2 separate regions of the Homo sapiens genome follow, and region 2 is linked to region 1. Evidence: fine-mapped expression QTL. Tissue or cell type: whole blood. Region 1 holds a variant in brackets; the other region holds the start of a gene. All regions are shown on one strand. Distances are from middle to middle.

Region 1 (2,758 bases):
GCTCCACGTGGCTGGGGAGGCCTTACAATCATGTTGGAAGGCAAGACATGGATGGCAGCAGGCAAAGAGCTTGTGCAGAGAAACTCCCATTTTTAAAACCATTTTAAAACCATCAGATCTCCTGAGACCCATTCACTATCACGAGAACAGCACTAGGAAAGACTCACCCCCATAATTCAATAACCTCTCATTGGGTCCCCTCCCACAACACGTGGGAATTATGAGAGCTACAAGATGAGATTTGGGTGGGGACACAGAGCCAAACCGTGTCACCTACATTTTAAAACAAGAAGACATAGTGCAATTGGGGATGATAATATTTGAGCTTATATAGCCTTATGCCAATATTCCTCAGATCCCATTTCTAATTCTCCAAAAGGGCCAGATGGTAGACCATCACAAACCCACCAGATTTATTGGCGCTGCCCACTGGCCTCCCCAAGGACATCCTGTCTCTTTGTGTACCTTCTTTGAATGTGTACAATTCTTTTTTTTTTTTTTTTTGAGATGGAGTCTTGCTCTGTCACCCAGGCTGGAGTGCAGTGGCCTGATCTGGCTCACTGCAAGCTCCGCCTCCCAGGTTCCACCGATTCTCCTGCCTCAGTCTCCTGAGCAGCTGGGACTACAGACGTGCACCACCACGCTTGGCTAAATTTTTCTTTTAAGTAGAGACGGGGTTTTACCATGTTGGCTAGGCTGGTCTTGAACTCCTGGCCTCAAGTGATCTGCCTGCCTTGGCCTCCCAAAGTGCTGGGATTACAGGCACGAGCCACTGCGCTCAGCTTGAATGTCTAGCATTCTTTTTTTTTTTTTTTGAGATGGAGTCTCGCTCTGTTGCCTAGGCTGGGGTGCAATGGCGCAATCTTGGCTCACTGCAACCTCTGCTTCCTGGGTTCAAGCAATTCTCCTGCCTCAGCCTCCTGAGTAGTTGGGATTACCGGCGCCCACCACCACGCCTGGCTAATTTTTGTATTTTTAGTAGAGATGGGGTTTCGCCATGTTGGCCAGGCTGGTCTCGAACTCCTGGCCTCAAGGGATTCACCTGCCTTGGCCTCCCAAAGTTCTAGGATTACAGGCACGAGCCACTGTGCCCAGCCTGAATATCTACCATTCTTTTTTGTCTTTTTTTT[TA/A]TTTTTATTTTTTTTTGAGATGGAGTCTCACTCTGTCACCCAGGCTGGAGTGCAATGGCACTATCTCGGCTACTGCAATCTCCACCTCCCAGGTTCAAGCAATTCTCCTGACTCAGCCTCCTGAGTAGTTGGAGTTACCAGTGCCCACCACCACGCCCAGCTAATTTTTGGATTTTTAGTAGAGACAGGGTTTCGCCATGTTGGTCAGGCTGGTCTCGAACTCCTGACCTCAGGTGATCATTCTTAAAGAGAAGGCCAGGAAAGGAAAAACTGGGAAGAATAGCTAACACGACAAATCGCAAAAACAATCCAAAAGAGTGTTGATTAGCTGGAACAATGGATCAAAACAAAAAACCTAAAGCTTAAGCATCATAAATACCCACATTTAGGTTTTGAAATCAGTTGTATAAGATTAGGATGATCAGCAATTTATATGTTTAGTGAATTCTTAAAATCTTATGTTACCTCAGCATCCATTTTGAATATAAGCTGGACTTTCTCATACCAGAAGCAAGATTCAGTCACCCTTGACACACTACTAGTTCTACACCGCCCCCCAGTTCCTCAGCCTGGTCGATCCAGGTATCTACATTATGTAACTGCTTCCTGGTGACTTCCCTATGGAACAACTAGATACACCCTGCTTAACTGGCCCCACTGACACTCACACCCCACATGGATTGTGCATATGTGCCACAGCGGTCACCTCTTAGTCACCATGTGACCTCCTAGAACCCATGCCTTAAACTCACCAATTCAAACTCCCCCTGGGAAACCTGTTTGGCTAACACCCTGGACCCAATAAAGGTGTTGACCCACGGGTCCCTTCCTCTCTCTCTCCATGCACTCCCTGACATCCCTGCATGTGGGCTCCAGGTATGCTGTGTACCGCAGGACCTGTAAGTAATAAAACCTTTATTTCTCTCTTACGTCTCTCATAATCACTGAAGGGATGCTTTCCATCTTAATGATCCTAATTTGAAACAACGTGGGGAAAAATGGCAGTTAATTAACTAATGCAGGTTTGTTGGGAGTGCTAACAGCCTGACTACATTATTTAATCAGTGTCTACTCCTGAATCTTAGCACTCATAGATCAAATGTGAAATAGTGTTTTTAATTCTAGATACCACATCTTAAACTAAAGAATATGCAGTAAAAGATGAAAAATGATAGAATCTAAAACATTTTTTTTAAATAAGTAAAAGAATTGTTGCTTAGCTTGGAGATAAAAAGACTCAGTTGAGATTAGATGGCTGGCCTTAGATACTAACAGAACCAATGTAATGACTTATTCAGAGTCCTCCAAATAAAGATAAGTTAGAACCAGAAAATTAAGTTACAGAAATATTTCAGTTCTCTCTTAGCTACTGGAGCTGTCTATCTATGGAAAAGCCTGTCCTAGGAAGATCTGAGTCACCACTTTTGGAAAGAGGAAGAGGAGATGGACATGGAAGAGGAGAGGTTAAATCAGAGATTTAACAAAAAAGATTCCATTTACTGAATAATCTTTAAAGTCTTTTTGAAAAGACAGTTCTTTGAGACAATCCTTACTAACAGTTCCAGATTTAGCAGAAAAAGTTGAAAACGAATGATTGAAGTTGAATACATTTTGAAAAGGATTTTCT
Region 2 (2,758 bases), 140 kb after region 1:
GATACTTTGCTCATGTATAATCAAGAAGTCATTTTTATGAAGCTTTTTAAAAACATGGGGAAATGCTTACAACGTAATTTAAATCAAGGAAAGCAGACAATCCAACGATATAAAATCTCATCTCAAGAAAATGCACAGGGGAAAAAAAGACTCAAAGGAAAAAAGTCAAAATATTATAAGTAATTGATTACTATTACATGGTGGAATTATGATTGATCATTTTTCCTTATTCTTTATTCTATTTTTTCAATTTTTGCCACTAAGCATGCGGTTTAATATCCAGGAGAGGAAAAAAAGGAAGAAATTAGGCGAAAAATTATATATAGTTCTACTGGATTAAACCATTAAACTCCCGCCAACTCAAGAGACGACAAGCTCAAGTGAATAAATGGAGGAATCTGATTGAATCAACAAAGTGCCTATTTTTTGAATTGAAAAGATTAACTTAATATCAAATGTATGGACTGGTTTTCATACAAGTCAAACTAATAAGAAAGAACATCCTTAGTCTGGAACATAATATTTGCAATCACGATAGTACAAATAAGAGTTAAAAATAAGGTCCTCTTTTGGAGTTCTCAAAAGTACCAAAGGAAAGGCAGCGGGAAAGACGGCCACTGCATCCTTCTGGTCTCTAACCAAGAGAAAATGCATGGGTGCGGGAATGGACAGTGCGAGAGCACCGGCGGCGATGAGACTCCTCTGCGGGGACCGAGCCTCTGCCACTCCTGAAGAACCACAGTCCCCTCCGCAGTCGCAGCCCCTCCCCAGGCGGGACGGCGGCGCCAGGGCGCTTCTCCCTCCGTCCGCTGGGGTCTCTCCCCCAGGAGCGCCGAACACTCCGGCGGCCCGGGAGCGGGGAACCGGGCAAACAGCCGCCGTGATTGCCCTCCCGGTCCAGTCCGGTCTGGCCCTTCAGGCTCCAGGAGGGGACATCAGATTGGAGGGCCAGGGTTCCCCGGCCAGCTCCGGGGGCTCGGAAAAGGAATCGGTCGGGGCCCAGGCTCTGTCCCCAGAGGAAGAGGGCCAGACCCAGCGCCCAGGTCGGCGGGTCCAGCGGTCACCCCGCCCCCCTGTGGGAACAGCAGGGCTGAGGGGAGGCCGAGACGACCGGTCACGGGGGGCTCTTACCTCCCTACAGCCCCTGCGGAGCTTTTTGGGAACTCGACACGACGTCGCGCTGAGGAGTGAAGAGCTACCCCGGCCGGGAGTCCTGGGAGTGCCAGATCCCGGCTCAGGGCTTCTTTCCCCGCCCCACCGGGCAGCGCAGAGAGCGCAGGCGCAGAGGACGCTTTCCTCTTCGGCTCACACGCCCCCTCCCTCGGCATCCGCGGCCGTCTCCAGGCCCGGGGCGCTTGCGCACTACGACGCAGGTTCCGAGCCAAGGGCACTAGATTTCTTACCGGAAGTGCCTGAGTGGGTTGTTGGGTGACGGGGACGCCTGATGATTCGACCTTAGGTCGGGACTCGGTTCTCCACTCGACTGCGGGATCGGGAGGCCACTCGCGTCAGTGTCTGACTTCCTTTACCCTTCGCTAACCTAGAGGCAGCTTCCCCGGCTCCAGCCTTAGCCCTTTGCTGAGCCTGCGCGGCGTTCCGGTCTCTACTGGACAGACCCGCCTTCCCGGCAGCGGGCTAGGCCTGCTCTCCGCGCTGCTGGCCCCTCGGAAAACATAACTTTTTGTTTACTTCAAACTGATTTTACAACACGCTGCCCCCCCGCCTCCCCCGCTTCCCCCGCTTCCCCTTCCTCCTCCCGGCAGCAATAAAAATGCTCCCAGCCAACGCCGAGCTCCAAGCCCCTCCAGCTGACTGGACATTCCCAGCCACACTTTCCTTCCCTTCGCTGCGTTAGTTCTGCATTTTTATTTTAAAGCAGCTGGTAGAACAGCTGTCTCCCTGTCTAAAAGCAAAAGCTGACTTATCTGATGTAGAAATAAAATGTCACTCACTTGATGTATATTTGCTTGTTGAGTTTTGCTATTTTTACCACAAGTTTCCTATAAATTTAAATGAGACCCGGCGCGGTGGCTCACGCCTGTCATCCCAGCACTTTGGGAGGCCGAGGCGGGAGGATCGCTTGAAGTCAAGAGTTCCAGACAGGCCTGGGCAACATAGCAAGACCCTGTCTCTACTAAAAATGAAAATGAAAAAATTAGCCAGGCGTGTTGGCGCGTGCCTGTAGTCCCAGCTACTGGCTGGGAGTCTGAAGTGGGAGGATCACTTAAGCCCAGGAGGTCAAGGCTGCAGTGAGCTCTGATGGCAACACTGCATTCCAGCCTGAGCAACAGAACCAGACCGTGTCTCTAAAAAAATAAAAAATAAAAACAAGGGAAGAGACATACATGTGGGATCAGATACAGACAGATACAGGGAAAAAGCAGTTCCTCAAAGGTTAAACAGCTCACAGTTCATACTGATCTTTCAAAAATCGCAAGAATTGGCCGGGCGCAGTGGCTCACGCCTGTAACCCCAGCACTTTGGGAGGCCGAGGCAGGCGGATCACCTGAAGTCAGGAGTTCGAGACCAATCTGGCCAACATGGTGAAACTCCGTCTCTACTAAAAATACAAAAATTAGCTGGGTGTGGTGGCGGGCGCCTGTAATCCCAGCTACTTGGGAGGCTGAGGCAGGACAATCAGGACCATTGAATGAACCCAGGAGGCAGAGGTCACAGTGAGCCAAGATCGAGCCACCACACTCCAGCCTGGGTGACAGAGCAAGGCTCCGTCTCAAAAAAGAAAAAAAAAAAATTGCAA

What was found. PIP is the estimated chance that this variant, and not a neighbour inherited with it, causes the effect.
Region 2: ZFYVE16 starts here. The variant in region 1 is fine-mapped to the expression of ZFYVE16 in whole blood (INTERVAL, PIP above 0.99).

The regions. Positions count from the first base shown.
Region 1 is chr5:80,551,340-80,554,097 of GRCh38, reverse strand. No RefSeq gene overlaps it. Among named protein-coding and RNA genes, the nearest start is that of ANKRD34B, 18 kb to the left of the region's middle. The variant TA/A (reference allele first, on the strand shown) is at 1,131.
Region 2 is chr5:80,406,527-80,409,284 of GRCh38, reverse strand. ZFYVE16 (zinc finger FYVE-type containing 16) reads right to left here and starts at 1,221. Exons shown (of 19, transcript NM_001284236.3): 1 at 1,132-1,221. RefSeq lists a silencer at 621-740 and an enhancer at 461-1,259.